7 linked regions of the Homo sapiens genome follow. The protein of the gene in region 5 purifies or fractionates together with the protein of the main gene of each other region. This does not show direct contact. Each region holds a gene or a part of one and is shown on either strand. Other genes may lie near its edges. The genes, in order: BPNT2, ADPGK, PROCR, RAB11FIP5, ABCB8, CCDC51 and RASGRP1.

The links.
Region 1: the proteins of ABCB8 (region 5) and BPNT2 fractionate together in Homo sapiens (co-fractionation; one large-scale study listed by BioGRID). This does not show direct contact.
Region 2: the proteins of ABCB8 (region 5) and ADPGK fractionate together in Homo sapiens (co-fractionation; one large-scale study listed by BioGRID). This does not show direct contact.
Region 3: the proteins of ABCB8 (region 5) and PROCR fractionate together in Homo sapiens (co-fractionation; one large-scale study listed by BioGRID). This does not show direct contact.
Region 4: the proteins of ABCB8 (region 5) and RAB11FIP5 fractionate together in Homo sapiens (co-fractionation; one large-scale study listed by BioGRID). This does not show direct contact.
Region 6: the proteins of ABCB8 (region 5) and CCDC51 purify together in Homo sapiens (co-immunoprecipitation; one study listed by IntAct). This does not show direct contact.
Region 7: the proteins of ABCB8 (region 5) and RASGRP1 fractionate together in Homo sapiens (co-fractionation; one large-scale study listed by BioGRID). This does not show direct contact.

What each region holds. Positions count from the first base shown.
Region 1 is NC_000008.11:56,990,591-56,995,393, forward strand, and holds the start of BPNT2 (Golgi-resident adenosine 3',5'-bisphosphate 3'-phosphatase), read right to left. Parts: upstream 3,278-4,803; 5' UTR 2,996-3,277; coding exon 2,609-2,995; intron 1-2,608. UniProt on the Homo sapiens protein: Exhibits 3'-nucleotidase activity toward adenosine 3',5'-bisphosphate (PAP), namely hydrolyzes adenosine 3',5'-bisphosphate into adenosine 5'-monophosphate (AMP) and a phosphate.
Region 2 is NC_000015.10:72,752,544-72,756,696, forward strand, and holds part of ADPGK (ADP-dependent glucokinase isoform 4 precursor), read right to left. Parts: intron 3,905-4,153; coding exon 3,708-3,904; intron 3,112-3,707; coding exon 3,013-3,111; intron 599-3,012; coding exon of another isoform or gene 572-598; exon of another isoform or gene 526-571; intron 353-525; coding exon 1-352. UniProt on the Homo sapiens protein: Catalyzes the phosphorylation of D-glucose to D-glucose 6-phosphate using ADP as the phosphate donor. GDP and CDP can replace ADP, but with reduced efficiency.
Region 3 is NC_000020.11:35,174,586-35,178,029, reverse strand, and holds the end of PROCR (endothelial protein C receptor precursor), read right to left. Parts: intron 3,329-3,444; coding exon 3,077-3,328; intron 1,863-3,076; coding exon 1,584-1,862; intron 1,333-1,583; coding exon 1,217-1,332; 3' UTR 668-1,216; downstream 1-667. UniProt on the Homo sapiens protein: Binds activated protein C. Enhances protein C activation by the thrombin-thrombomodulin complex; plays a role in the protein C pathway controlling blood coagulation.
Region 4 is NC_000002.12:73,085,261-73,089,413, forward strand, and holds part of RAB11FIP5 (rab11 family-interacting protein 5), read right to left. Parts: intron 4,056-4,153; coding exon 3,619-4,055; intron 3,490-3,618; coding exon 2,790-3,489; intron 1-2,789. UniProt on the Homo sapiens protein: Rab effector involved in protein trafficking from apical recycling endosomes to the apical plasma membrane. Involved in insulin granule exocytosis. May regulate V-ATPase intracellular transport in response to extracellular acidosis.
Region 5 is NC_000007.14:151,034,720-151,038,872, reverse strand, and holds part of ABCB8 (mitochondrial potassium channel ATP-binding subunit), read right to left. Parts: intron 4,150-4,153; coding exon 4,044-4,149; intron 3,293-4,043; coding exon 3,131-3,292; intron 2,992-3,130; coding exon 2,906-2,991; intron 2,801-2,905; coding exon 2,703-2,800; intron 2,330-2,702; coding exon 2,224-2,329; intron 1-2,223. UniProt on the Homo sapiens protein: ATP-binding subunit of the mitochondrial ATP-gated potassium channel (mitoK(ATP)). Together with pore-forming subunit CCDC51/MITOK of the mitoK(ATP) channel, mediates ATP-dependent potassium currents across the mitochondrial inner membrane.
Region 6 is NC_000003.12:48,436,919-48,441,577, forward strand, and holds the start of CCDC51 (mitochondrial potassium channel), read right to left. Parts: upstream 3,202-4,659; 5' UTR 3,070-3,201; intron 1-3,069. Other genes in the region: TMA7 (translation machinery-associated protein 7), read left to right, coding at 3,379-3,394, 3,485-3,540, 3,623-3,710.
Region 7 is NC_000015.10:38,558,084-38,562,236, forward strand, and holds part of RASGRP1 (RAS guanyl-releasing protein 1), read right to left. Parts: intron 2,531-4,153; exon of another isoform or gene 2,045-2,530; coding exon of another isoform or gene 1,923-2,044; coding exon 1,738-1,922; intron 1-1,737. UniProt on the Homo sapiens protein: Functions as a calcium- and diacylglycerol (DAG)-regulated nucleotide exchange factor specifically activating Ras through the exchange of bound GDP for GTP. Activates the Erk/MAP kinase cascade.

The sequences.
Region 1 (4,803 bases), on a different chromosome or scaffold from region 5:
GATTCCTCAACTTGGGCATCAATTGACAAATGGAGCAGATAATTCTTCGTCATAGGGGGCTGTCCTGTGCATTATAGGATGTTTACCCTCTACCTACTAGATGCCAGTAGCATCCCACCCCTGGTTGTGACAATCAAAAATGTCTTCCGACGTTGTCAAATGTCAGTTAGGGGACAAAACTGTCTCCAGTTGAGTGCTCTAGGATAACCCCTGGTATATCCTTTTACTGAGGAGTGAACATTACATACGAAAGCTCAGACTTCAGACTCTACATAGGAAAGTAGTGGGAGAAAACAGATCTTTCTACATTTACATAGGGCACTAGGATAAAAGAAAGAAGTATCTGTTGCTTCTCAATGGTCTTTTTCCACTAGGAAGTAAACTAAGTGGGATATAATTTAAGTTTCTTACCAAGAAATTTGGGGTGAGGCTTCAAAATTAACCAGGGATTTAAGACTGTACTTCTGGGCATTAGGAGAGGGGAAGGCAAAAAAGGAGAAAGACTCCTTTTAGGTTGATTCTCCACTTAGTTGGCTACAATATTTGGCCTCTAGCCTATAACACAGGGGTATAAGGAGATCGCTCAACATGACACCATCCCTACTTTGACACTGTATAAATGATCACAAACCTCTTCTATTCCTTCAGTCATGACCCAACATGAATACTACAGAAGCACATGCAAACATTCAAATAGTCACAAGAAAACAAGAAGTTGTTTTATATTAAGCCAGAGACTTCAACATCTGCAATTCCAAAAGCTTAGCTTTTATGTTAATAAAATGCAGCTCACTGCCCTTGGCAGCCATTCCCTTATTGTTTGCTAATAAATGAGAATGCACACACATACAGATGTGTTTTCAACATTTAAGATACTTTTGTTTTTACTTAAAAAAAGAAAAATCAACTCTGCTTGCTGTATTTCACTATTACTGCTTTTAAGCTTCTACAATTATAAGTTTTAAATAGCCTTCTAAAAATCTAGCTAAAATGTGGGATAGTTCATATAAGCTGGAGTGTCACGAGCCTCAGATTTCCCGTTTGTATAGTAGGCAGAAATAAAATTTACTTCTTAAAGTTGCTGTTAAGGATCAAATGAAGTCCTGTGTAGCCAGTATTTGGGCATGTAAAATATATTCAATAAATGGTTATTATTAGTACTGTTATAACCATTAAATAGCAACTTCTCTGAATCTCCTGTTTCCTCTATAAATTCTTGGGGAAGGAAACACGTATGTTTTGGAAAGGGGGTAAAATATTTCATAAACACACCTTACATCTAGATGCAAAAAAATTTAAGTATTATTTGTGATGATAAAAACAGAGTAGGGAAGAAGAAAAAGTGGAAATATTCTGTGTTTTAAGTAGAAATTTGAAAAAAAAAATTCTAACGTTAATTACATCTGGTATCCAGTAGCTCATGTTAGGAAATACAATGTTCCTTTCCACTGGAAAAAGAAAAAGACGAAAGAAAAGGGAGGAAGAGAGGAGAATAAAAAACAAAACCAAAGCAATATTATGATAGACTGGAAGAAGCCTTATGCAAAATACATAACTAAACAATGACAATATTCTCCTAACTCTTTCAAGATCAGCAGTAAAAGGTCAGTCACCTTCCAAAGAAGCCTGGGTTTGCACATCACTGTTTATCTAATAAAATTCCAGTGAAGACAATTTTTCTTCCCAGTAGCCAAAACTACAGTTAGGTGAGTTAAGATATACGTTAATAAGGTGCTGCTACGCTATGCTGAGCTCTTCCTCAACAAAATTTGCAGTTTCTGGAACTGCAAATTTTAAATATGCTTTATTCAACTCAATAGCAGCTCCAGTGAAATGATGAATTCAAAAAGTATTAATAACAAATCCAAAATGTCTGGATTTCCTTAAGAAAATGTCAACTCCCTTCCCAGAAACCTACCCAAAGAAAAGCCAAATGTTATTTAATTCTTATTCTCTGGAGTAAATATGGATCTTTAATCAAGGGCCAGGTAGGACCAACAGCTGGTATATTTCTAAGTACCTCCTTAAAGGGCCCGCAAACTATAAACTTTAGAGCGTCCTGACAAAAAGACAGCGAAATGAGCATACTCATCCCCCACCCCCCCACCCCGACTCCCGCGAGCGCACACACGCACACACAAATGCCCCGCACACTAACAGCTCTGCAACAAGACTCGGTCTTTCAGCTGGCTACTGGCAGGCCACCCAGAAAATGTGTACTCCAGTTTCGACCCTTCTAGGGATGAAATCAAGGAAGGATAGAGAGTCTTGGTGGATTTTAGCCAACCCCTTAATTCTACAGAGGAGCCTGAAGCTGCGGGTGCAATTAACTTTGTCAGCCTTTTCGTTTCAAGGCCTTCTGATCCCAGGTACACACGGCGCACACCCGACCCAGGACGAGCCAAAAGGGCACGGGCCCTGAGTCAGACTACGTGCAACCTCACCCAGCTCCTCTGCTGTCTGTCTGACCTTGTGCACGTTAACTTCTGCGTCTCAATTTCCACATCTACAAAATGGAACCAGAAGCTCCACATCCCATACTGTTAAGAGTCGACGGGCCGAGACGCGCTACCCGGCTCGAGTGGGCGCTCCGCCCGTGGGCTCCCACCTGGACGCTGGGGAAGGCGGTCTTGAGCAGGTAGAACATCTTGCGGTTGGACAGCACGTCGCCGCTGGTCATCTTGTCCTCGGCTCCCTCGCGCGTCTTCCCCTTGGACTTCTCGTGGAGGACGTTGCTCTCGCGGACGCGCCTCACCTCGTCGCCGCCGCGGACTGCGGCCAGCACTGACACAGCCAGCATCTCGCGCAAGTCCACGGTGCCCCCATCGGCCGCGGCCGCGGGCCCCGCCGCGCCGCCGCCAGGCTCGCCGCCCAGGCCGAAGAGGCTGAAGCGGCCGGCCAAGAAGCCCGAGTAGAGGTGGTAGAGCACGCCGAGCCCCAGCAGGCAAAACACTGCCACCCCCAGTGGGGAAAGGCGGATGCCCATGGGGGCCATGGCGTGGGAAGCCGGGCGCTCCGGGCTGCGGCTCTCACAGGCCTCCAGCGCCCGCCGCCGCCGCCGCCGCAGCCGCCGCGCTCCGGGCCAGGCGCCGCGCGGGCTACACTGGCGCCCGCTCCCCGGCCCCGGTGCGCCCCATCACTCCCTCCCAGGAAAGGCCGAGTTGCGCCGCGAAGACCACCAACGCCGCCCCGCGCGCCTGACTCGCCAGGCAGCGCGCTCTAGGTTCTTCCGCCGGCCGGCTGGTCCGACTTCCACGTTAGCCTACGGCCGCGAGGTGAAAGGGGAGCGTGGGTGTGTATCCGGGTTACGCGACGGGGCGGGGCGAGGGCGAGGGCGAGGGGCGGGGAGAGCTGGGCACCTCCCCTTGGGGCGGGGCGGGGCGGGACAGGAGGCGCTGGACTGAGCTGCCTTCCTTGGTCTGGGTGGGAAGGTATTCCTGGAAGTGGCGAGCAGCAATCCGCACAGGACAGTGTGCTGTGCTGAGTGCCTTGTGGGTGTTTAAATTAAATATCCCATTGTACGACTATGGCTGGCTGTAATAAACCCACAGTAACAGTCTAGTCTTCTCATCACTCTCAGATTATTGAGGAATGGAGGAAAACACAATAAACCATTTTAAAAGATTGATTTGCAAGCTTTTTTAGCCAGCGGGGGTGTAGACAGCCTGTACCTTTAAGTCGCTTCTCCGCGCTCTTCCCGGCAGGACGGGGAACTGGGCGGTGAGGGGAAGAATTGTACTTGGCTCTTCATTCTGTTGACATCTTTGTCGTGCCCTAAATGCTTATGTGTGTATAGAGTTTCTCTCCTCCACCTGCCAGAATAAACCATCCTCGAAGCAGCTGAAAAACATGCCTTGATCCGGGTTTTTCATAATGAAAGAAAGCAAACCAGGCTTCTCTCATTTCCAAGGGTACTCGAGCCTGGCTCTCCTACCAGAGCTTAAGAAGAGGAATTGCTTGACAGAGTCCACTTAAAATAGAGGTTATCCGGAGATGGTCAGTCTAGAACATGTAATCTTTGAGTCAGCGTAGGCTCTCGAAGTATTTTGACAGAAATAACTACCTTCTACTATAACACCGATCTTAGCTAGAATGATAGTGAATACTTTATAAGTATTCATGAGTTTATCTTTAATCTTAAAAGTGAATATTAAGATGTATAGTATTGTTCTTAAATGTTAAAATATCTATATAAATCAACTTAAAATGTAGCCTGTTTTACTGTTCATAGCAAAACAGCATTGGTTTTAAGTGGACTTTAGAATTAACCACCTGAAAAACTGCAAGTATACCAAACTTCTAAACATCCATTGCTAAGCAAGTCATGTAGAGCCTGACCTTTACCGCTTACTTAGAGTTCAGGGCATCCCTAGAATTTGCATGTGATTATACACATACAACAAAAGCACTGCCAGATTATACACATACAACAAAAGCACTGTGATTTCCCTGCCAGAATCACAGCACAAAATCAAGTACAAATACAAATCAGTGAAAGAACAATCCCTAGAGTATTGACAGCACCAGAACTTAAAGAACTAGCATTGCCTTTCTTGTCAGCTTTTGAGAGTAACTTTGCAATGAAGCAAAGCTGCTTTCAAATATCTAAAAGTGAATGTCACAGAGTAATTCTCAAAACCCATCCCAGGGATAAAGATAAACATCAGGGTTGAAATATAAAGGTTTAAGTTAAACAGAACCACCCCAACCTACACTATGACAGCAGCAAAAAGATGAGTTGGATAGTAATCATGTCAATATTAAAAGCATCATTGGGAAGTCTGAGATTTCTCAAAATAAACG
Region 2 (4,153 bases), on a different chromosome or scaffold from region 5:
GGGGTGCCCTCAGAGACACTCGGCTGGTGTCTATGGTTTCTGTGGCGCAGGCCTGTGTCCCAGCCACACGAGCTCCTGCAGCCACGGCTGCCAGCTGGTTGGCCCAGTGTCCATCCACAGTTGCCAGGATGTGGTAGACCAGCGTGTGGAAATGGATCCTGGTGAGATCCGAGGCTCTGCTTTTACTCCTCCCATGTTCTTTCAAGATCCAGAAGAGGATGTCACTGACCATGCCCACATCAGGAACACCGTTCCAGGAAGAGAGAGAAGAGTGAGGTCCAGAGGCTGACTGGGTGAGAAATAACAGCTCCTGTTCATTCAGCCCAAGGGAAGTCACCGCGGGAAAGACCTGCTAACAAAAACAACAACAGGTATCTTTCTGATGGAGATAACCTGGCTCCTAAGATGTCTTATGACACAGCCAGTGACTAAATGACAGGGAACACAGGCAGGCAGCTTTCTTCCTTGATACAGGACTCCCTGGCCCTGAAGTCACTGTTTTAGCTATCACACCCCTATCTTCACCTTCATCATCATTTGGGAGAAACTGGAAAGCTGCAGTAACATTGTTTCAGATGCAGTCTTTTGTGATATGCCACTGTAAGACAAAAGGCAGAGGTGTCTATATTTTGTGTTTCTTTCCATGGTCCCTAGCTTTTGCCACTGCACACATAGGAGATACTCTTACCACTGATGGGGCATGGCTCTCAGTTCCTGAATGTCAGCAGTATTAGACCAGTAAAATGGAGACCTCAAGCAACATACTGTCAGGGTTATAATGATTTTTTTTATACAAAACACCAAGAAGCAAAAAGCATACAGTTTCATGTTAGAGCTAAGCTTTTTAAAAGCAGGTGTGGGTTAGGAAGACTGTCTGAATTTAGCAATAACACTGTAAGAAAAAGATTACCAAACAGGTGCCCGTGTTTTCTGTCTGATGGGGAACCACAATATCCACCTCCCTGTCTTTCTTACTTAGCACTTCCCTCCTTAGAACCAGAGAACCACACTTAAGGTAACAATTTTTGCAGGAGAGAGGAGTCCTTGTATGTATGTGTGCATGTATAAAATGGTTTTAAAAATTTAATGGCCTACATCTTTGTTGGAGCAATAGCAGCTTTCCTTCACTGCATGTTCTTCTGTGTCAGGCACTGAGCTAAAGGCTTTATTTCATCCAATTCTTACTGTAATCTTCTGAGGGAAGGAGGGACTGCCTCCATTGTACAGACTAAGCCTCAGAAGGGTTAAGTAGACAGTTACAGAGAAAATGAAATAGAAATGGCTCATTTTTTTAAAGGTGAGAAGAAAAACCCAAACAAAAGCTATACTGAAAAACACCAAGAGTGAACCCAAGTGTAAACTATGGACTTTGGGTGCTGATGACGTGCCTGTGTAGGCTCACTAGCTTAACAAATGTACCACTCTGGTGCAGGCTGCTGGTAGTTGGGGAGGCTTGTGTGTGAGGGGACTGGAAGTATATGGGAACTCTCTTGGATTCTGCTCTATTTTGCTATGCACCTAATATTACCATAAAAAAAAAATGAAGTCTATCAAAAAAAAAAAAAACAAAACCAACGACAGTCAGCCCTCCATATCCATGGCTTCAACCAACTTCAGATGGAAAACAGAGTATTCAAGGATGTGGAACCTGCAGATAGGGAGGGCCAACTTGTCTAATCCACAGATTCCACAGGGCCAACTGCAGGACTTAACCATCTGCAGATTCTAGTATCTGGGAAGGGTTCTGGAACCGCCCCCGCCGCCCCACACACCGCTGATGACGAGGGATGACTGTATACTGAAATACCATTTTTTCATCTGTCAGACTGATATAAATGCAAATTTTAACATTCTGGTAGCAAGGATATGAGGGAACAAGTATTTGTAATTATTGCCAGTGGGAAGTAAACTGGTATAATTCTTATGGAGGGCAATCTGGCAATCTCAAAATTACAAGTGCTTTTTTATGCTCCAGTCCAGCTGTTCTACTTCTGAGACTTTCTCCTAAATATGGACTTGTTCACAGGCAAAACAAAATCATGTATCAAGTTGTTCACTGCAGCACTGTGTGTAACAGCAAAGGGCAGTAAATAACCAATATGTCCATCCAGAAGGTTCAGGTTAAGTAAACGGAGGTACATCTACACATTCATTTTAACCATATGGCTATGAAAAGACAGAGGATACTCTCCATGTTAGTGATGCAGGAAGATCTCCAAGATATATTTAGTGAAAAAAAGAGCAAAGTGAAGAACAGAGTATTCAGTAGGCTATGCTATCTTTTTGGGTAAAAAGGGATGGAAAACAAAATCAGGATATATTTCTGTATTTTCTTATACTTGTACAAAAGAACTCTGGAAATAAACTGATGAAGGGTGCAAGTAGGGAAGGGGAGGAAGTAGAAGGGAGACTTCATTGTATATCTTTTCATAGTTTTTGGGTATTTTTTAACCAAATGAATATATTACCAATTAAAATTAGGTAACACTAGATTGCCAGGTGAGGTAACTTGCCTGAGTTCATGAAGCCCGTGAGTGCAAGGCTGGCATGCGAACCCAGGTCTCCAGAGCTTGTGTTCTGAAGCTTCACCTGCTCAGATTTATACTAGTCAATGCTGCTGCCCAGAGGCAGGCACTGAACACCCAGATGCCTGAGGAAGGAGGGAGGTTCCCTCAAAGTTTCTTTGCTTTGAGCTTCTTGAAGTTCAACTGAAAGCAGCTGAGCTGGGCTTTCAGTTTTTTCCATTCACTTTCAACTTTTCCATTCCAGAGGAGAAATATGATCAACAATCTGTCAGTTACACTGCCATAACTTTAACCTAGTAGGAGATACTGCTGTTTCAGAACAGTCCTGGATCCTTATTTGGATCTCCATGGACTTGGGTCTGAGTGACACAAACCTACATGTCAGTGAGCCAGTCCCTGAGCCCAAACAGATGGTCCCACTGCACAAAAAAGCTTCTCTGCAAGGCTCTATGAGGATCAGGGCCAAACGATGGTCCCATGAGGTTACCTGATGGACAATGCTGCTCATGAGCTCCCTGTTAGTCATACTGGCCAGCTCTAGGTGAACTGGAATACCAGTGGGGATGTCAGAAATGGAGGTTACAACCTGCAAAGAGAAGAAGATAAGCACTGCCATTAGAAATAGAAGGAAGTCAAGAAAGAGGGAAGAAAAGATCAGATCCTGAGAGGCGGTTCCTCCTGGTAATGGCCTTCTTTGCATGCTCACGGGAGCTACAAGCAATGTGGGTCCCCACCACCTCTGTGGACAAGGGACACTCTTCCCACCAGGGAAGACTAGGCTGTGCAGAGCCATCAGGGATACAGAATCAGAGATGGCAGTTCACTTCGACTGCTGTACGAATCTGTAGGAGTTGCAGCATAGCTGATGTGAAGTGAGATGATACAAATAACACAAAGGACACAAACTACAAACCCTGCAGCTTGCAGCCATGGTCGGTTTAGCACAGGATGCAGAGGCTCAGGCAAGAAGATGTTCTGCCCTGTCCTACTCAAGCTGCTGCCCACATCTGAAGGGATACAGTGAGGTGCCTCACTGCAGCAGGAGGCAAGCTCCACAGCCAGCTGCCAAGATATGTCCCTGGGAGGCCAGGACCTAAGACAAGGCAGCAGATGCCAAGAGAGGCTGGAACCTGAAGAAAACCACCAGCTGAGATCTGTGAAATTCTGTAACAGTGCCATTACCTCCAAGAGTCTCTTCCTCTGGAGCTCCTTGCTTTGTCCCTCCATCATGTGCAATCCAGAGAGGACCACCAGGTCTGGCTGAAACTCCTCCAGGCTAGACACAAACACCTCCAGCATATTCATGGCCCCGTTGGAGAGGTCGTGAGAGAAGATGAATCGGTTGGCATGGGGAGCTTTTAACTGGCCCCACTCCTCCCCTGGAAAAACCCAGTCAACACAATGGGAAGAAAAGGAAGAGGCTTTAGGTCTCCTAGCTGTGGGGGCACTTTCAGGCACCTCACAGGAGCCTTGGCTCCAAGCAGGCTGGTTTCTGGCTGAGGAGACCCCAGCAACAATGGCCTAAGGTCAGCATGGCACTGCAAGAAACAAACCAAAAACCTAAACCCAAACCCAGCCAAGAAACAGAAACATAGTATGGGTGCTATATGCCTTTTTCAAGGTAATTA
Region 3 (3,444 bases), on a different chromosome or scaffold from region 5:
ACCTAGAAAGGGTATAGTTCAAACAGGAACAAAAGGAACCAAAAAATGGAATTCTAAGGAAGCCAGCATTTCCAGGGTGAATCGTGTAAGATGACATAGTCAAAGGGATTGAAAAAAAGTAGACAGAACAGTTTTAAAAATTGAAGTATGGTATCTCAGAAGTTAAGGCAAAAAGAGAGTTCTAGTCCGCAAATTTGCAGATACCATGTAGGGTGATGGTTTGACAATTAGAGGTTACTGGTGATCTCAGAGTAGTTTATAGAGAAGTCAGATTGCACTGGGTCTAAGAATGAGTGAGAAGACCAGGCGCAGTGGCTCACGTCTAATCCCAGCACTTGGGGAGGCCGAGGTAGGCGGATCACGAGGTCAGGATGGCCAACGTGGTGAAACCCCATCTCTACTAAAAATACAAAAATTAGCTGGGTGTGGTGGCATGCATCTGTAATCCCAGCTGCTTGGGAGGCTGAGGCAGGAGAATTGCTTGAACCGGGAGGCAGAGGTTGCAGTGAGCTGAGATCACACCATTGCACTCCAGCCTAGGCAACAGAGCAAGACTCTGTCTCAAAAAAAAAAAAAAAAAAAAAAAGAATGAGTGAGAAATAAGGAAGCAGAAGAAATGGGTATAGGTTACTTTTCCAGAAATTTTGCAAAGTGGAGGAGATAACAATGCCTTAAATATAAGAAATTTATTAATATTATTAATTGATTAATAATTGATCACTGCCATATGACTTGGATTTTACATTTCCACCACTTCTTCGTGTTACTTCTTTCTACCCTATTATATCAGCGTCCCATCCCAAGTCTGACACACCTGGAAGTATTGAATGTTGTATTTTGATTGTGGATGACTTGTTTATTTGGTTATATCTTTTGAACGCCTCAGGTGATTCTGTCTGTCTTTGGAGGATGGGCCATAGGCTTCCTGCCCCAACTCCATTATCTGTTTTCCACAAAGATAGATAAACATTCACTTATCAGACTAATTCAGCAAAGCATACACGTTCTTAGGTTCTTAGCAAACCAAGTACTTTGTCCACCTCTCCTCTCCATCTCCCCTCCCTCAAATCTTCAGTGGGCAGATGTGGGAGAAGAAAGGAGCTGTCACTCCAAACCTTCTGGTGTTTCAGTTGGGGAGTCTGGCTTCACAGTGAGCTGAAACTTTCCCTTGCCAGCCTCCATCAATCCAGCCCCTTCTGAGGGGGCTGGAGAGTAATTAACATCGCCGTCCACCTGTGCACAGGAAGATGCCTACAGCCACACCAGCAATGATGAAACTGCCCACCAGGACGCCCAGGACCAGCGAAGTGTAGGAGCGGCTTGTTTGGCTCCCTGCAGAACATGCAAAGAGTTAGCCCGAAGAATAGGCCCCCAAGGAGTCCATGATTTGAGTCAAACCCCAAAGCGTTTCTGCCCCAGAGGAAAGGGACCCGTTTACCAACTGACTGAAGCTGCGTGTGTTCTGTCCCAAACCCCCAGCTGTGGGCCTCTTGTTGCTCTAGGCATCCATCCTTCAGGTCCATCCATTTGTCTGGAACCCGCCCTCTCCCCAGCTTGCAGGCCTGGGCCCCGTCCCATCATACCTTTCGTGTTTTCCGCGGAAATATGTTTCTGCACATACTGCACACAGGTGTCCTCCAGGAATTCCCGCAGTTCATACCGAGTGCGGTTGTAGGCATTGAGCTGCTGCAGGGTGAAGGTGACCACTCCGGAGGTGACCTGGGTGTCTGCCTGCCACAAGGCTCTCTCCGGCCGGAAACTCACAAAGGAGCTCCCATTCACAGCCACTTCGAAGAAGACATGGGCTCTAGAGCCCTCGGGAGGCAGCTCACAGCCCAGGAAGCAGCGGATGGTCAGAGGAACTGTGGATAGACAGTCAGGGTCAGGGGACTGTGCAGAGAGGGTGCCAGGTGTGGGGCGAGGCCCACCAAGGGGAAAAGAACATGAGAAGGCAAGAGTCAGTGCTGTGAGGAGAGGGGAGTCTAGGTCAGGGAACTATGGGGAGAAGGGCCTGGGGCTGTGAGGAGGGGTTTGGGGTTAGCCTGTTAGAGGCTAAGAAAGAAGGGGCCAGGGACTGTGATGAAAAAAGGGAATTGTCAGGCCTTGTTCAACTGTAATAGAAAAAAAAAACAGGGGGTGAGGCTGGGGCAGGGGCGGCAGCTCACGCCTGTAATCCCAGCACTTTGGGAGGCCAGGCTTGTGGATCGCCTGAGGTCAGGAGTTCGAGACCAGCCTGGCCAACATGGCGAAACCCCGTCTCTACTAAAAATACAAAAAATTAGCCGGGCGTGGTGGCGGGTGCCTGTAGTCCCAGCTGCTTGGGAGGCTGAGGCAGGAGAATCGCTTGAACCCGGGAGGCGGAAGTTGCAGTGAGCCGAGATCGCGCCACTGCACTCCAGCCTGGACGACAGAGCAAGACTCCGTCTCAAAAAAAAAAAAAAAAAAAAAAAAGGGGGGTGGGGTGGGGGACTAGGAGAGAAAGGAGTTAAAGGCCATGATGGTGGGGGAAGGGGGACGGAGTGGTGCTTGGTGCTTTGAGAAAAGAAATTGGGGTCTTTGAGAAGAAGGAGTTAGGGTTGTGACGGGGAAGGAGTGGGGCTTTGAGAGAAGAACTTGGGGTCTTTGGGGGAAGAGTTCGGGTCATGAGTGGAGCTAAGAGCGAAGTCATCAGCTTGTATGAGAAGTGGCTGGAGGGTGGGGGGTGAAGTGCTGGGGGCTGTGGGAAGGGAAGGACGGAGATCTATGAAGAAAAGGAGTTGGAGGACTGTGAGGCGAGGGGTGAGGAGTTTTCTGGGGACCTTCGACGTCACGGTGTCAGGGCCTTCCAACAGGGTCTATCCCAAGAGGTTATGCCAGCAGGACGACCGCCCGAGTCGGGGCTTTCTTAGCGGGGACAACTGCCTCTCTCCAGCCCCCACCCAGCAATCTTCAAAGGCCCAGGCGCCACCGAGCTCCAGTGGCTGCCGGGTCCCTGCAAGTCCCAGCCCGCCTCCATCCGCCAGGCCCCGCCCCCACCCGCCAGGCCCCGCCCCCACTAGCCCCGCCCAGACCCCGCCCCCGCTGCGCGCCTACTCACAGGCCAAGGTCCGCTCCTGGTGCACCAGGCGCACGAGGCCGTGGAACTGGAGCAGGTAGGACTGCAGGCCACTCTGCGTGCGCGCCCAGCTCTCGGGCTCCTGCAAGGGCTGCAGCTGAATGATCGTGGTGTTGGTGTCTGGGCCTTCCAGCACGTGCGTTAGGTGTCCCCCCAGCGACGCGTTGCCCTGGTACCACACGTGATAGGGGTCGCGGAAGTAGGAGATCTGGAGCATATGAAGTCTTTGGAGGCCTGCGGGCAGAGTCAGCTTCAGCCTGGGCCGGCGTGGGAGGGGGCGGCGGGCAGCGGAAGATAATAACCCCCTACCTCGAGGCTGGCCGCCCGCCTTCTCGACCCTTCATAAACTA
Region 4 (4,153 bases), on a different chromosome or scaffold from region 5:
AGACTGCCAGAGGCCACCATCATGATACACTCATCTCTATGTTGTACCACACTTATTCCCAACTTTAAAAGTTTTTGTAATCAACATTTGATCCCCTTCTGTGCATAGAGTCCTATGGTTAGTGTGGGGGGCGGGGAACAAGGGAACACAAGGATGACCCGGGATAGACACAAAGACAATCCACTTTGGCCCTGGCGGGTTTAAAATGCGTGGTCTTGCCTGTCCTCAAACACACGTGAAGTAGCCTGTGCTGCAGCTCAGTGTGAATGGCTCATAACAGGGCAGGGGAATGAGGCTAAGTCCTGTGGCCAAGACAAGCTTGGTCTCAACTACCTACTCCCTGCTCCAGCACACACTGGTAGGGGCCCAGTGTGACTGCCATGGCCCCCAGCAGACAAAGGCCACATCAGAGGAACAGCAGGACCCTCTTCTCAGCCCTGTATAGCCTCATTTGTTCCTTCCCCACGGCAGCAGCCTTTCTCTGGATACCATACTCAACACGTTCAGCCCCGGGCCTCTCTGTGGGGCATCAGTGCCACATGGGAGCACTAGAGGGCGCCGCTGTTCTTCCTAGTGAGGAACATCCCACAATCTGCAATGGTAGCCCCAAGGCAGAGGCCCCCATTCTCTGGACCTGGGGACAGGCTCCCCAGGCCCCAGCTGGAGATCCTGCAGCTACATTCAGTCACTCCAGTTCTGGGTCTAACCCACAGCTTCCTGCCATGAGGCAGCCCACCTCTCCTTCTCTCCTCAGAGGCCCTAAGCAAGCCCTCTGGGGAAGCGCCAACAGTCCTTTCTTCCAGGCCAGCCTTCCCCTCCCTGCAAGGCACACAAGGCCAGGATGCTGCTGATTGAGCTCAAAGGCCAGGTGTCACATCTGTCCAGGCCAGGCCATCTTACCCAAAGCACAGCCCCTCCCACCCCATCTGCATGCACGGCCACAGAGCCTGGCCCTGCAGCCGCCACCTGCAAATAGGCCCCATCTTGGGAGGGATGCTGAGTGCCCTCCATCCTGCTAAAGACAAGGCTCAGAATTCAAGTGACAGCAGGACAGAAACCTCAGCTTCCTTATGGCCATCAGTGACCCAAATCCTCCAGATTCCAAGAGGCCATTAGGAGATATGGGGAAGCAGGAGAAAGAGGATGGAGACTGTAAGTGCCCCAGGCCAGTGACAACCCCACAGACTCACAGCCTGTGGGAGTCCAAGCCCAAAGCCTGGGCAGGACTCACCTACAAATGGCCCCAGCATTCACCTTGCCCCAGAAAAGGCCCAGAGACACCGTACGCACAACCACACTGAGCCTGTGCTCTGTGCCCCTTTCAATCCAGGCCCTCAGCTCCTCCCAGCAAATGCCCTGTCCAGATCTCCTGCTACCTCCCTCTACCCTACCACCTCCAAATACCTCTGGCTGGCTGTCACAGGGACACCAGGCTCAGCCTGGCATCTGGGAAAGGCCTGTCCCCTTCTTCCCAATCTTCCCCTAGGCCGCAGATGGCCAGCAGCTCACCTGAGCTCTGGTGAGTAGGGGCGGGGCAGTAGGGACAGGAGCTGCCATACCAAGCAAGGGAGGCAAGGGGTGGCATGCCCCTGAAACTGATCCACCCCCCCATACCCCTATCTATGAGGGTCTAACAGGGATTGTCAGCTGACCATGGCCCAAACCTAGAAAGGCCTGCATGTCTCTCTCCACTCCTCTCAACAGACTCAGAGTGCCACAGGGAAACAAAAAGCCAGGACTACAAGATTCCTCTCCCCTCTGGGCAACAGGTTTAGGGTCCTTCCTCTGCCCTATCTTTTGCCCCCTTGTTACTGTGCTTGTCCTCTAAACCTGTCCAAGCAGCCATGGAGCGGGAAGGGCAGGCTTGTTGAGAGAAACAGTGCTCTCACCACACTGGCCAGGGCTGCCACAGATGCTGCCTATGAGGGCTGGCCCCAGGCCCTTGGGAAGGTGCGACACACACTTCTGTGACCTGTACCTGGAGCCCCTCTCTGGACCCTGCTATACAATTCTGCAGCCTCTCCTGGCTCAGAATTAGGAGGAAGCAAATGGTAGGCATCAGGGTCTCTGCCCAGGGCCTGAAATGGGGGACTCAGTATATTCAAAACAAAACAGCTGCCACCAGCACTTCCCACGGTGCCATACCTCAAGACCAAGAGACATCAGAGAGGGCCAGAGCTCCCAGGGTCTCCAAGGACAGAGATGGGTTACAGATTTCATGGGAGCTGCCCACAGCCTCTTGCCTGGGGAAGCAACTGGCAGGTGAATGGACGGGGGAAGGAGTGGTGGCTTCAGTTATTTGACTCCCGTCTCCCAGAGGGAAGTGATCACAGAGACAGCTGGGGAGAAGTCCTCTAGCTCCAGAGAGGGGAAGGGAAGTCTGAGAGTGCGGTCTCCAGTCCTCATCTCTCTACCAAGGCTTCCTTACCTTGAGGCCAGAGGGCAAGAGGTGGAGGTCAGGAAGCAAAGAATTCACACAAATGGACTTTCCTGCTTCCCTCCAGCTCAGGGGGTGGGCATGCCAACTCATGCAGCAAGGCCTAGGGCTGAGAAGTCGGACCCCTCAATCCATAGGACTCTCAGAGCACTATGCCCTCGTAACTCACCTGTGTCCGTGAGCACAGAACGAACCTTGGCTTAGGGAGACACCCCACTAAACCATGCAAAGCCAGAGCCCCAGCAGCCTGCCTGAGGTCCATATCTACTCCTTCCTCCCTGCCCCAGGGTCCAGGCAGCACACACCCCAGCATCCTCCCCAAGGAGCAAAGTTGGTCTTGCCAACGACTTACCTGGGTTTCTGAGTCGGGTCCTTGGCTTCTCTCAAGCCAAACCAGCTACTCTTGGCCTTTTCCTCCCCACTGGATGAGTGATGTGGGGAGGCCCCCAGGATGGGACCCCCCTTTTCCCCCAGAGAGCTTCGGCGACCCAACTCGCTCCGACTTAGGCCTTGGTGGTGGTGGTGGAAGAGACCCATCCGGGGCTTGCGTTCCTCCTTCCGGGCTCCCTCCTTCTCTGCCACAGCCTCAGAGGAGGCCACTATGGGTGTGGCAACCTGGACTGGCTTGCCCTCTGGTAGCCGGGCCCCCTCCTCCTCTCCAGGGTGGCTGGCCCCAGGGGCCAGGACTTTAGCCTGAGCACTCAGCTCCTCCTGTCCAAGCACTGCCTCTGAGCTGCTGTTGCTACGACTGCCTCTGGGCCAGGTGTCATCTGTGGAACGAGGCCCCTCCTCGGAGAACCGGGAAGAGACAGCTTGCAAGGAGCCAGAGGATGGAAGCGAGCCCGAGATGGAGCTGCGGTGCCGCACAGGGCCCTGGGGCTCCTCATTGTAAATGTGGCTCCCATTGACACAGAGCGAAGAGCGGGAGGCAGCATCCAGGTGGCCCTGAAGGTCCAGAAGGGCCCGAGGAGGAGCCACTCGCATCTGGTTGGCCTCATCGCTGTAGGTCCTCTTATGGGTGAACAGCTTGGGGGACTGTGCAGAGTCCCTGCCTGCAGGGGAAACACACAGAGTTAGCTCGCAGGAAGAGAGGCCCCATTTCCTGGCCCCAGGCCTTCATCACCACCCAAGGGGAGAGCCAGTGCCCCCCTCCCCAGGGCGGCGGCCCTGTGCTTGCTCACCCCCTTCAGTGGACAGCCAGCTGCTACGGCTTGGTGAGCGGGTGAGGAGTTCGGCGCCAGGTCCCTGGTAGGCCAAGCTCCCGCTGGCTGAGGACAGGGTGCTGTCCGAGCCCAGCGAGGTGTTGGACTGGGTCAGGGACGACTTGCGCAGCTTGTTGCGGAGGAAGAAGCCTTTGGCTTTGCCCATCTTGCCCAGGCTGCCCAGGTCAGGATCCTCTATGGCGCTGCTTGGGAGGATGGCAGAGGCAGATTCCAGATCATACTTCTTCTTGCCCTTCATCTTGTCCCTGATCTTGCTGAAGGGAGACCTTGGCTTGTCCTTCATGGACAGGTCAAACATACTGGCGCTCAGGTTGTTGCGCGTGAACTGGATGGTGACTTCAATCTCGCCGCGTTCCTTCTCCTTCTTGCCTGGCTTGGAGTGCAGCTTGTACCACCTGTGAGAAGAGGGGAGCAGGCAGAACTCAGTCACGGGCCCAGGGAGCCTGGCTCCCGCCCGGTACCAGGCACTGCCCAGACCCCTCCTTGCTCTGAG
Region 5 (4,153 bases):
CTTTATGCAACAAATCCAAACCCCCAAGATGAGTGGGGAAGAATCTCCACATAGGCAGCGCTAGAAGGACCTCCAAGAGGATGGGTCTAGGGCCTGTGGCTGTGGGAGCAGCCAGCGAAACAGCACAGACAAGCCCCTGGGGGTTCTTGTGTGTGTCATAAAGCTGCTGGATGGCCAAGCAGTACGGTGGGAGGTAAAGTCAGAGTCTCAGGCCCTAAAGGGGAAGTGGGGGTCCCGAAGCGGGAGGGTTGGGGCTGGACAGTGCAGCCACCCTCCCCACAGGGAGACTGTCCCACCACTGCCCACCACAGAGGGCTAAGGGGTGATTTTATTAAGGGAGCCACTGGGCTTCTTTTTTTTTTTTTGAGACGGAGTCTTGCTGTTGCCAGGCTGGGGTGCAGTGGCGCAATCTCAGGTCACTGCAACCTCTGCCTACCAGGTTCAAGCGATTCTCTTGCCTCAGCCTCCCGAGTAGCTGGGACTACCACCATGCCCAGCTAATTTTTGTATTTTTAGTAGAGACGGGGTTTCACCATGTTGGCCAGGATGGTCTCGATCTCTTAACTTCACGATCCACCCACCTCGGCCTCCCAAAGTGCTGGGATTACAGGTGTGCGCCACCGCACCCAGCCGCCACTGGGCTTCTTATGGGCCCTCAGGACTAAAACGACCGTCCCATTCAGAGAGGCCAAAACTCTGGTCAAGGGAAGTGGGTCAGCGCTGAGCAGGGCAGGCAGTGGTGGAGGCAGCCCCCCAAGACCCCATCTCTATCACAGTGAGAGCATCTGAACTCCAAAGCCACGACAGAACAGCTCCCAGCCCCCCAAGACCCCATCTCTATCACAGTGAGAGCATCTGAATTCCAAAGCCACGACAGAACAGCTCCTTGGGCTGGAGGAGGGCGAGGCTGCCAAGGAGGCCTGAGCCCGGGACCAGAAAGGGTCTGAAGGTGCTCAGATTAGGGAGCACGAGCAGAAACGGGGCACGCGAGGGTGTCCATGCAGCTGCGGAAATGGGAGGAACGTCTCTGTGGAATGTCAGGTTTGGGGCTGAAAATGGGAGCCTGTCTCCGTCCGCCTCCCGCTTCCTGGGACAGTACACCCTGCAGTGAGGGGTTCTGATCCGGCGGACACACACGCAGGGGTGCACCATGCAGCAGGGCGAGGACACATGCCTCAGTAGAATGGGGTGGGGGCCCCGGTGGAAGAGCAGGGGGGTCGTGGGGGGAGGGATGGGGTGGCAGAGGTGATGCACGGTTCGTGGAGACGGGTCTTCACCCTTTGATGATCTGTTACAGCATATTTACTATCTCATTATTTACCATAACATATTTATGTAGAACTGCTTGTGTTTAGCTTGGAAAGAGATAGGAGGGGGGAGGCCCGCCTTGAGCTGTCTGGTGATCAGCTCTGGTCATCCCAGAGGCTCAGCTGAGCGGGTGGTTTTGGACCAACGCAAAGCAATAAGCTATAAGGGTGGGGTGTGTGGGGACAGGGGTCAGCTTGTCATCCCTGGAAGTGGCAGGCATGGGGAAGGGCAGCTCACACAGCCTGTCAAGGATGGTCCTTCCATGCATGGAATGTCACAGCCTGCAGCGGAAGGGAATTCGGACAGGGTGCAACACGGAGGAAGCTGAGGACACAATGTGGAGTGACAAAACGCAGTCACAAAAGGACATAGTCTGACTCCACTTAGAGGACGTCCCTAGAGTTGTCAAATCATAAGGACAGAAAGTGGAATGGTGGGTGCCAGGGGCTGGGGGAGGGCAAATGGGGATTCCCATGTCATGGGGATAGTTTCCGCTCTGCCAGGTAAGAGTTCTGGAGGCGGACGGTGACAACAGCCGCACAGCAATGTGAGTGCACCCACTGCCCATGAGCTGCACACTTCAAAATGGTTAAAATGCTGTATTTTATGTTTTGTGTACTTTACCACAGTTGAAACAAATTTTTAAAAAGCCTGTCAAGGAAACTTCTGGGTCCTTTGGAAGGCTGAAGATGACAAGCACCTGCCTGCTGCAGCGCCACTGCCCCAGCCAGGAGGGTTGTTATGGGCCCTGAGGGGCTCTCTCTCCCCACCCTATGCATCCCTGGGGAAGCTGGGCAGGCCTGGAGCTGCACAGCAGTCGGCCCCCAGAGAAGGCTGGCACCCGTGTCCCCTAACCCAGCAGGGCTCTGGAGGGCGGCAGGGGGCTCTGTAGCAATGGGAACGGCCCCCACTTACCTTTGCACTGTCTGGGAGGCCACCAGGAAGGACATGAGGTCTCCCCCTGTCAGCTGCTGTCCGGCCACAAGGGAGCCCCCAATAAATAGGGTACCCAAGACCATGCCTGCAGGAGAGGGGAAGTGAGGGAGGACGAAGCCAGGGCAGAGGAAACAGCCCTGGGCCTGCTCTGCCACTGCTGACTGGGAGAGTCAGGTGAGGCGCATGACTGGTCCCAGCGTTGGCTTCCTCCTCGGAAGAGCAAGTTGGGGTGGGCACGCCTCCATGGCCTCCTTGAGGGTGGCCCTGTAGCGTTCCACATGGAGTCCCATAGCTGGGTTGGGACATCGGCACCCTCCCTTTACCTGCAAGAGTTAGCAGCTGGCCCGAGGCGAATGCAGGCAGCCAGCAGATGAAGGGAGGGCCTTTGCCTGCCTTGGCTGCTCCCAGCTCCTCCCCAGCCCACAAGCGCCCCTCCAGCCCCCAAATGGCTCACTCACAGTTGAAGGCGATGTTGGAAAGCCCTTGGAACAAGGCGATGCCGCGGCCCAGCTCCTCTGCCCGGCAGCGGCAGGCTTCCAGCTCTGCCCCATAGCGCCTGGTGAGAGAGACCAGTGCATTCAGGAGGCAGCTGGGCTGGCACGAAGGGTTGGCAGGGTGTGGGGGGCATCTCTGCTTTGTGCTCCGCCCTCCCAGGACTCACTCCTCTTCCCGTTGCTCCATGGCGAAGGCACGCACAGTCCGCACATTGCCCAGGGCCTCGTCTGCTACGCCCATTGCCCTGGCGATCTGCAAGGAGTCCAGGAAACAGGACAAGGAGTCCAGAAAACAGGACAAGGAGTCCAGGATGGGGACAGGGAGGAGTTCCGGGGAGTGGAAAGAGAAACGGTGTGGGGAGGGTGAAGAGGATGGCCAGGAATGCCGGTACCTGCTCCTGACACTGGCGAGACAATTTTCGGAGGCCTGAGCCCATCAGGGTGCCCACTCCCATCAGGGCTGGTGTGGCCACCATCAGCAGCAGCGTGAGGCGTGTCGACAGCATGGACAGGGACACCAGGCAGCCTGCCACCTGGGTGCAGCTTCGCAGCCCCTAGGGAGTGGGAGGGAAGGCGGGAGGCTACGGCGTCCGCACCATGACAGGAAGGACTTTTCCAAGGGTCAGCTGACTGTAGCTCTGCACTCCCACGGCCAAGGCCCAGGTCTTGGCCCCTGGGAGGCCCAGTGGCAGTCCACCGGTCACAGTACGTAACCCTAACTCGGCCAGTTGGGGTGCGAGCAGCAGGCCTGAGGGGGCCGAGCGAGAATGCTATGAACTGTGGCATCCTTCCCCTAGACAAATCCCAGCTTGCTTCTCTTTCTGTTCTAGGAACTGAACAAAGAGAACTGCATGGGGGTACACCAGTGACTGCCTAGGCCAGTGTGTGGCATGATCCAGCAGTCAGAGTCGGTGTGGGCGGATAAGGGGAGGGCATCTGTGTTCGGTAGGCCACTGCACATGCTCAATGCTTGTCAGCAATCCAGGCACTCTGGGGACAAGGCAGGCGAAGTGATTTTGCTCTTGCCAGGAAAGGCTCTTGTCTGAGTGCTTGGGAAGGCTTTCCAGGGAAGATTCGGTTTCAGAGCAGTGGAGAAGCAGCCTGTCCTGACCTTGGACACTGCCTCTACACTTTCCTTCCATGAACTTCCATGGTCCCTCACCCATGCCCTCACAGGCAGTGGGTTTCTCGAGTCAGCATGCGCCTGTCAGCCCAACATCAGGGCTGGGGCGGGCAGGGCTGGCCTGGTGAATCCACATGGGAAAGTGTGTGTGTGGACGTGGTGGGGGCCACTGGGCCACTGACCTGGGAGATGACAAGCTTGAAGGATGACTTAAACTCCTGCACGTCAGTTGTCAAGCGGCTCACCAGCTGCCCTGTCTTATTGGCGTCAAAGAAGGTGATGTCTTGTCTGG
Region 6 (4,659 bases), on a different chromosome or scaffold from region 5:
CACAAAAATCAGATTACATCCCTCTGATCAAAATCCCCCAACAGCTCCCATTTCACCTGGCGGTGGCCAAGAAATCCTGAGACCTCTCAGCCCTCATCCTCTTCCTTCTACTGCCATACTCTGCTCCAGCCACCGTGCTGGTCTGTGCCCTGCCACCTTGTCCAGCTGGATGACTCTTCCTCCACGAGTCTACTCGGCTCACCCCGACATCTTCATCTTTGCCCAAATATCACCTCTCAGTAAGGCTTCCTTGACCACTCCCTCCCCAGCTACCTTCTCTGCTTTATTTTTCTCCTGATGGATATATTTCCTTATGTGTTGCCTATTCTCTCACTAGAACATAAGCTGGGTGACAACAGACTTCATAAGGGAATGTGGCAATAATTCCCATGTGGCAACTGGAGTTGTTTCTCCACTCCAGTCCCTCCCCTCAGCCTCTCCACCATCCCACCAGCCCCCAACCCTGGGCCCTGTTTCTCAGCCCCCAGGATGTCACCACTTAGATGTTTCACAGGCCCCCCAACCAGCAAGGAGAAGAATGTTCCTGGCAAAGAGAAAAGGTGGAAAGTGCTTGAGGTCGCCCAAAACCTGAAAGGCAGTCAGTGCAACTGGAAAGCAAAAGCAGAGAAGAGTGGATGGAGAGGCTGGATAGGTGAAGCAGGGCCCTGAGGGTCAAGTTCGGAATCCTGCCCCTTCAGATCCATTCTCCCGCTCTATGTAGATGGCTGTCTCCTACCAACTGCCCCTTCCTCAAGCCTCTATCATCTGTTCCTCATCTTCACTTCCAGCTGATGGTCTGCTTGCTTCATTTTCCATCAAGAAAATAATAAAAAGTTGGAAGAGAACTTCCACAAACTCCCACCATACCTTCCCAACCATCAGTAACTGCCCCATTTCCACCTCCTCTCTTGATCCTCAGGATAAAAAACCCATGCTTCTAGGGAAAACCAACCTGTGCCCCAGGTCCCAAATCCTCTCTCCTCCTGAGACATTACTCAGTAATTGATCTGACACCCCCCCACCAGCAACTGCCCCATTTCTTTGGTTTCCTTTATAACCAAACTCCTTGACAGACTGCCTGAATTCACTGTTTCTGTTCCTCTTCTCTGATTCCGTCCAGCTCCCTCTGATCTGGCCTTCACCTGCTCCTCCTTCACATGCCATTTTTCACTCGGTTTCCAGTCCCCACTCATCTGCCTAACCTCTGGAAACTGTAGCACCCCGGCACTCGGCACTCAGACTCCTCTCTTATCCAGTCCTGTGGTTTTAAAAATCATCTATGAAAATGGTCAAAAAAATTTATTTTGGTGATGGCCATACAACTTTGTGAATATAATAAAACCACTGAATTGTACACATTGCATGAATTACATGGTATGCAAGTTATATATCAATAAAGTTGTTTTTTTAAAAAAAAAACAGAACTATACTCTTGACTCCTCCAGCGCAGACCTCTCTCCCCAGGGTTCTAGGCTCATTTATCAAACTTCCCAACCTATATCTCTGCCTGAAAATCTAATGGGGATCTCATCTTCCCCTCCCAAACCTTTTTTTCCCATAGCCTTCTCCATCATGGATGACAGCAATACCAAGTTCAAATATTCAGATCAACAACCTCGCATCACCCCTGATTCCTCATTTCTCTCCCACCTCACATCCATCTATCAGCAAATGCCCCTGGCTTTCCAAATCCAGGATCCCTCCTCCTCTCACCTCTGCCACTGCTACCAAATGGTCCCAGTGACCCACATCACATCTCTAGCCTGGATTATCCCAAGAGCCTCCTGACAGATGTCACCCTGCTTCTATTCCAGCCCCTACAATTTATTGTCAGTCGAGCAGTCAGTGTTCCTTTCCAAACACAGGTGGAACCATTGTCTCTCTGCTCAACCTCTACAATGGTTCCCCACTTCTCTCAAGGTAAAAGCCTGTCTTTTCCATGGCCTACAGGGAACCTACCCACTGGCTCTCATTCCTCTCTGACCTCATCTCCCACTAGTCTCCCTTTCCTCACTCCACTCCAAGCACATGGACCTTCTTGAAGTTGCTGGAACGCACCAAGTTGTCCCCAGCTCAGGGCCTTCACGACAGCTGCTATCTGTGCTGCTCGCTCCCTCACCTTCTTCAAGTCCTGCTCAAATAGTAGCCCCTTGGGAGGTCTTCCCCATGCACCCTATCAGATATGGCCATCCCACTCCCACCCTAGCACTCCTGACCCACTTTCTCTGCTTTATTTTTTCCATGCATATATCACATGACCTGCAACATGTATCCCATTTATTTGCTTTGGTTATAGTCTGTCTCACTCACTAGAATTTCAGCTTGGTACCTACATATAGTACGTACCCAGCAAAAAATGTACTCATCTGCCTAATCTCTGGACACTGTAGCATCCCAGCGCTCAGCACTGTTATTTAAAAAAATAACAACTTTGGCTGGGTGCGGTGGCTCACGCCTGTAATCCCAACACTTTGGGAGGCTGAGGCGGGGGGATCACGAGGTCAGGAGTTCGAGACCAGCCTGGCCAACATGGCGAAACCCCGTCTCTACTAAAAATACAAAAATTTTCCGGACATGGTGGCGGGCACTTGTAATCCCAGCTACTGGGGAGGCTGAGGCATGAGAATCGCTTGAACCCAGGAAGCAGAGGTTGCAGTGAGCCAAGATCGTGCCATTGCACTCCAGCCTGAGAGACAAGAGCAAGACTCCATCTCGGGGGGAAAAGAAAAAAAAGCTTTATTGATATATAACTTGCATACCATATAATTCACCCAATGTGTACAATTCAGTAGTTTTACTATATTAACAGAGTTGTATGGCCATCACCAAAATAAATTTTTTTGACCATTTTCATAGATGAACAAACAGAATTCGCAAACTGCTGCACCCCTGACTATATTATAAAACTCCTTACAGGGTTTTCCAAAGCTATAGGACCACGTGATATAACTCCCGTCCACTTCTGCCATCTCCCCGCCTAATCTCCCTCCACCCAAGCTGTGCTTTCCTTGGTTCCAGGAAAGCGACGAGCTTGAAGCTCTTTGCACATGCACATGCCCTGCTGTCTACCTGCAGTGCTCTTCCCGCGCACGGCCACAGGCCTGGTAGGCCGTCCGGTTAAGTACCCCTCCTACGGTTCCGATTCTACCCTGGCAGGACAACCCTAGCTCCTCGTACCTGGCGTGGCCCGACCAATCGTCTGCCACTCAGTTGACCTCTGACCTGTTAGTACCCGCCCCTGGAGCGCCGCATCCGGTAGCGAGAGTTCAACTTCCTGACTAGGAGCCAATCAGCGGGGCCGCCTCGCTGTCTACGACAAAGGGTGGGGCAGACGCTCCGTTTCCGGTGGCAGGGTCTGGGGAAGCGGCGGCAGGCGCCATGTCCGGCCGCGAAGGTAAGTGTTCCGGAACCGTGAGGACTGCGGGGACGGCGGGGTGGGGACCGGGCGGCAGGGGCAGGCCGAACGTGCTCGTGTCGCCCACAGGTGGCAAGAAGAAGCCACTGAAACAGCCCAAGAAGCAGGCCAAGGAGATGGACGAGGTGAGGGCGGGCGCGGAGGCACTGGCGGGTGCGGGGGCGCTGGGAGACAGGCCTGAGTTGAACACGCTCTGCCTCTCCCCAGGAAGATAAGGCTTTCAAGCAGAAACAAAAAGAGGAGCAGAAGAAACTCGAGGAGCTAAAAGCGAAGGCCGCGGGGAAGGGGCCCTTGGGTAAGTGGGGGCCGAATGGAGCTCAAGCTGGCCAAACGCTATGAGCACCTATTGGGATGAGGGCGCGGGCATGTCTTTTTCCTGCCTCCTGAACTGCGAGGTCTCGTTTTCCGACGTCCGCTGCAGCGAATGGTCTCTAGCCAGTCTAGGATTTGCAGCGGCAGTAAGGGCCGGGAGCTGGAAACGAGGTCTCCTGCCTCCCAGGCAGTCTGGGCTTCCATTCCTTAGGAAGAGCTGCAGAAACGGAAACAGTGAAATGTATTTACCTCAGACGCAGATTCACAGTTAAGTTTCTCAAAGTCTGACGTCGTCCGCAATCTTTTGCCCCAAATTCGTATTTCACTGCCTTCTAGTGTTTGAACCTTACTTGACTTAGAAGTTTTTTTGTTTTGTTTTGTTTTGTTTGAGACAGAGTCTCACTCTGTCTCCCAGGCTGGAGTGCAGTGGCGTGATCCCGGCTCACTGCAACCTCCACCTTCCGGGTTCAAGCAATTCTCCTGCCTCAGCCTCCCAAGTAGCTGGGATTACAGGCGCCTGGCACCACGCCTGGCTAATTTTTTTTTTTTGAGACGGAGTGCGGCTAATTTTTGTATTTTTAGTAGAGATGGGGTTTCACCATCTTAGCCAGGCTGGTCTTGAACTCCTGACCTCGTGATCCACCCGCCTCAGCCTCCCAAAGTGCTGGGATTGCAGGCGTGAGCCACCGCACCTGGCCAGTTTTTTTTTGTATTTATAGTAGAGACGGAGTTTCACCATGTTGGCCAAGCTGGTCTCGAACTCCTGACTTCAAGTGATTCACCCGCCTCTGCCTCCCAGAGTGCTCGGATTACAAGCGTGAGCCACAGCACCTGGCCAACTTTTTTTTTTTTTTCGTACTGCTTATATTATCTCTAATATATGCTTTTTTGCTTTCTGAGTCTTTTTACTTCTGGGTATGCCTAGACTAAAA
Region 7 (4,153 bases), on a different chromosome or scaffold from region 5:
ATAGTGAAACAGAAAGAAGAAAAATCCTTATTCAGGAAATAGTCATGGTGGCCTGCTAAAGCCGAGTAAATCTGACTGCTGAAATGGTGTAAGGAACTTTGCAGTTTATTCAGGTTGGGAAGGAAGTGAGAGTGGAGTACATGATGAACAATGGCCCCACGTCAGCCGCGCCTCCCCGGTCTCCACCATCCTCTAGTTTATCTCCTCGCAGTATATTTTCTAAGGAGATTATTTTGAAATAGAAAGCCATTCATTCTGCTCCCAGATTCATCTTAACTGAATGATTAAAGTGTGAAATAAGATTGAAGTATAAAATAAAGAGAAATCTAATGAAAATTTAATGCTAAACTAGTAATACTAAAAATTCTTCCTCTTTTCCAAGTTAAAAAGTCTACAACAAACAGCACTTTAAAGCAATGATTCGCGAAGTGCGCTTCTTGGGTCAGATGCAACAGCATGGCCTGGGAACTTGTTAGAAATGCAAATTCTTGTGCCCCACCCCAGACCTACTGGAGTAGAAACTCTGGGGTTGGGGCCCAGCAATGTGTGCTAAAAAACAAAACAAAGAAACAAACAAAAAACAGCCTCCATGTGTGATTCTGACACTCTAATGTTTGAGAACCAGTACTTTAAACCAACGTTGAAATAGTTGAAACTGTTCAATGCTGTACTACATTGTACTAAATGAATATCCCTAACATGTCAAGTATTTCCCAATTCTATACATAAGGTCTGAGCAAGCACTTAACACACACAGCCACTAGTCCGTCATTCTGAGATCTCATGGATCATGAGCTGCCTAGGATCTGACTAAGCCTCCCTTAGGTTCCCAGGAGGCTCCCAGGGTTGGGGTAGGCTTGGGGGGGTTGGTATGTCTGAGCTGTGCCACACAGGCTCCTCTGCTTCACCGTGGGAGATGGAGGGATACAAAAAGGGGTCCACAGGAGGAACAGGAAGCTGGAAATCTTTGAATTCAATGATTTCATTGAAATCCATCAATTTTAATCATTTTTTGGGAGGAAATATTTAGTACTTTTCAATCACTATTTCACAAATAAAAATCCAAAAATACACCACGCTTATAACATTTTAAAAAATCTTTTCAGATAATTGCTTGATGGCTGCACTAAGCTGTGCCTCCCTCATGGTGGGCAAAGGTGCTGACAGAGTGCAGCGTCTGAAATGTGCGTGTCCACATTTATTTCCCAGCCCCTTGACCCTGCATTGCAACATTTATTAACCAGTGTCTTCTCGTCACAAACCTCCTGGCTTTACCCAGTCCTTTCCTATTCCACCACATCTGCCCTCCAGATTGCAAGGGGAATTATTGGGACTTTATTCCTCCAAATGATTCCAATTTCTGTTTGATAACAAAGTTTGCTCATGTAACAGTCTTTATGTGCCCCAAGAAGGCAAGGACAGAAAAGTCTCAAAGCACCAGATGCACAATATCATTTTATGATATTTTTCATCACAAGAAAAACCTCCATCCTAAGAAAAATGGAAATGCAAACTCTCCTAACTTTTCTCACTTTAAAATTGCACTTCTCATCACGACCTATTACACCCACATAGTCATGTGCCATAGGCTCTGCAGACTGTCTCCAACATTTCAAAGGCTCAAAAGCTATTTTTAAAGCCAAAATACAATCTAGATTGCTGTTCCGTAAAGCACTTTTAAAGGACGAACAAAGTAATAGAGTGATTTTTATGCCTGTGGGCAGTTAGCCAACTTACCAAAAGATTGAATGCAGCTGTCAATGAGATCGTCCAGGCTGGCTCCTTTGGCTAAATGTCCCAGAGACACCATCATTCGGAACTGGGTGATGTGGGCCAAGCTGGGATGGGAGGGGAAGGGGCTGTTGGCTGGCTTTGCCTCTAGTCTTGCTTTAGAGGCAGCTCTGCAGCCATGGGAAGGTTTCCTGGGGAAAGAGAGAAGGCAGTGAGGGGACAAACGGGCAGCTCCACGCTCTGAAGGCAGATTGGAGAGGAAGGGAATGGAGATAAGACAATTAATCTCAGGAGCTGGGCTGATAGAAGCCATACCCCTCCCACTTGGCAAATGCACCAAATGACTGGTTGGCTGTTAAAGAGACATCTCCCCAGCAAAGGTGAGATTTCAGGGTTGCAACTAGTGCTCTTCATCCTGGCATTAGGATTGCTCTGTCCTACTGTCTCCCACTTCCTGAAGGGGAATGGCAGAGGCAAGACTATCTTGGCAGTCCTTAGCTCCCAGCAATGTATACATTTTTTCAGCTACTAAGCCACTGACTTGAATCTTAAAAATTATTTACATTGGTTTCTTTGGCTAACTTTGGCAGGGCATGGTGGCTCACGTCTGTAATCCCAGCACCTTGGGAGGCCAAGGCGGGTGTATCACCTGAGGTCGGGAGTTCGAGATCATCTTTGGCTAACTTCATTAATCTTGAGCAATACCTGAGATACTACACAAGGTCAGGCAGCCTCAGAATCATCGTTAAGGACCTTGGGGGAGAAGTCAAAGACTGAGGACTCAAGTGCAGGAAGTGAGGGGTGATGATGGTGGTGTTTAGATTTTAAGCGAGTCCTGCCTTTCTTACAAATCTTGGTTGGTTTTAAGATATTGTTTTTCATGGTTGATAATACAGGTAACCATTATGAGTCATTTTTGTTACTAAACATCGTTTTTTCAAATCCTTACTTGGGTCCTGATTGAAACAGAAAGCAGAGCTGTGAGAGCGTTGTTCCAGCACTCAGTGTAAAAGGGCAAGTTTGGATCTAGAAATGGCTTAAGAGTCCAATGGACTTTCATCTACTCACACGCAGCTCTATCTCTGGTCATGACCTCATCAGTACAAGTCATTTTGCGAAATGATTTGGGAAGTTGATTGTCTTCTCCATTAAAAAATACACATACACACACAGATCCATATCTATAATCTTTTATGGTTTAATAGTGATGAGTGTTGCTGGTAACTCTCTTGAGCATTTAGTTAATTCTCCTCTCTCTACTGTGGCTTTGGTTATTTTGTAGTTTACTACCAAAGCAGCAAAGAGAAAAAGGAAAAAAACGTACCTCTGAAGTGTAACTTTACTCACTATATATGATAAATGCATAATGGCATCAATTAATCTCTAAGTGTTTATTCTATGAGTAAGGCATTGTGATTGGCCAGAGAAGACCACAGCGAGATAGTCTAGGTGAGGGTACTTTATATACTCATTACATACTAGCTGCTGTTGTTACATAATGGCAGTCTAGAAGTTCCTTAATACAAAAATATAGCTGAGGAATCAGACTGAGATAATGAAAAGAAAGCTACATAAATGTTAAATAAGTGTTCTATGAGTGTCAAGAGTAATAAGCATGATGTTCCCAGAGAAGAAAGAGGCAGTTTGTGGGACAGTGTCTGGGAAAGCTGCTCTGACAGGATATAATCTCAACCAAAGGGGCTGAAGAAGTGCTTAGATCAAAATAAAATGCTAGGCACATGTGGGTTTTGGGAAACCAGCCTGCTAAGAGATGGTGTATAACTGAACTATGGGGCCACTCAGTACACAGCTAGACCTGTGCAGGGGCACCCTGGCCCTTCAGGTTGTTTCAAACTAGCTCCAGGGCGCTGGTCTGCAGTGGCCGCTCGGCTCTATTCTGACCTGATGCAGGTCCAGTGAAACTGAATCAACAATTGGTTATTGGGCATCTGCTAACCCTAGGCAGTAATTCCTGAAAGATCAAGTCGGTGGTACAGGACTCAAGTTTCTGGCCATAATTGATTTTCAAACAGGCCCTGTGATAGCCCCAGAATTGGATCAGTCTCTAAAAGCAAAATAATAATGGTGACATGAATTGAGTACCTATGCTATGGCAGGTACCGTGCTGGGGACTGACCCTGTCTTGAGGCTTACAGCCCAGAAGGATGTTATCCCCATCTCATGACACTGAAACTGAATCTAAAAAAGGGTAAATGACATAGCCAAGGTTATAAAACTCATATATAATCAACCTGAGATTTGTACCCAGCACCTCTCTGGCTTTATTCATTTAATAAATATTGACTGTGCCTGGAACTCTGCACATTTCACAACATCAGGATTAGTAGTAGACAATCACAGAGAGGCTGAAAAGGTCAATTCAATTTAAAATGAAAGCAAAATCCTTCAAAAGCATAACTGG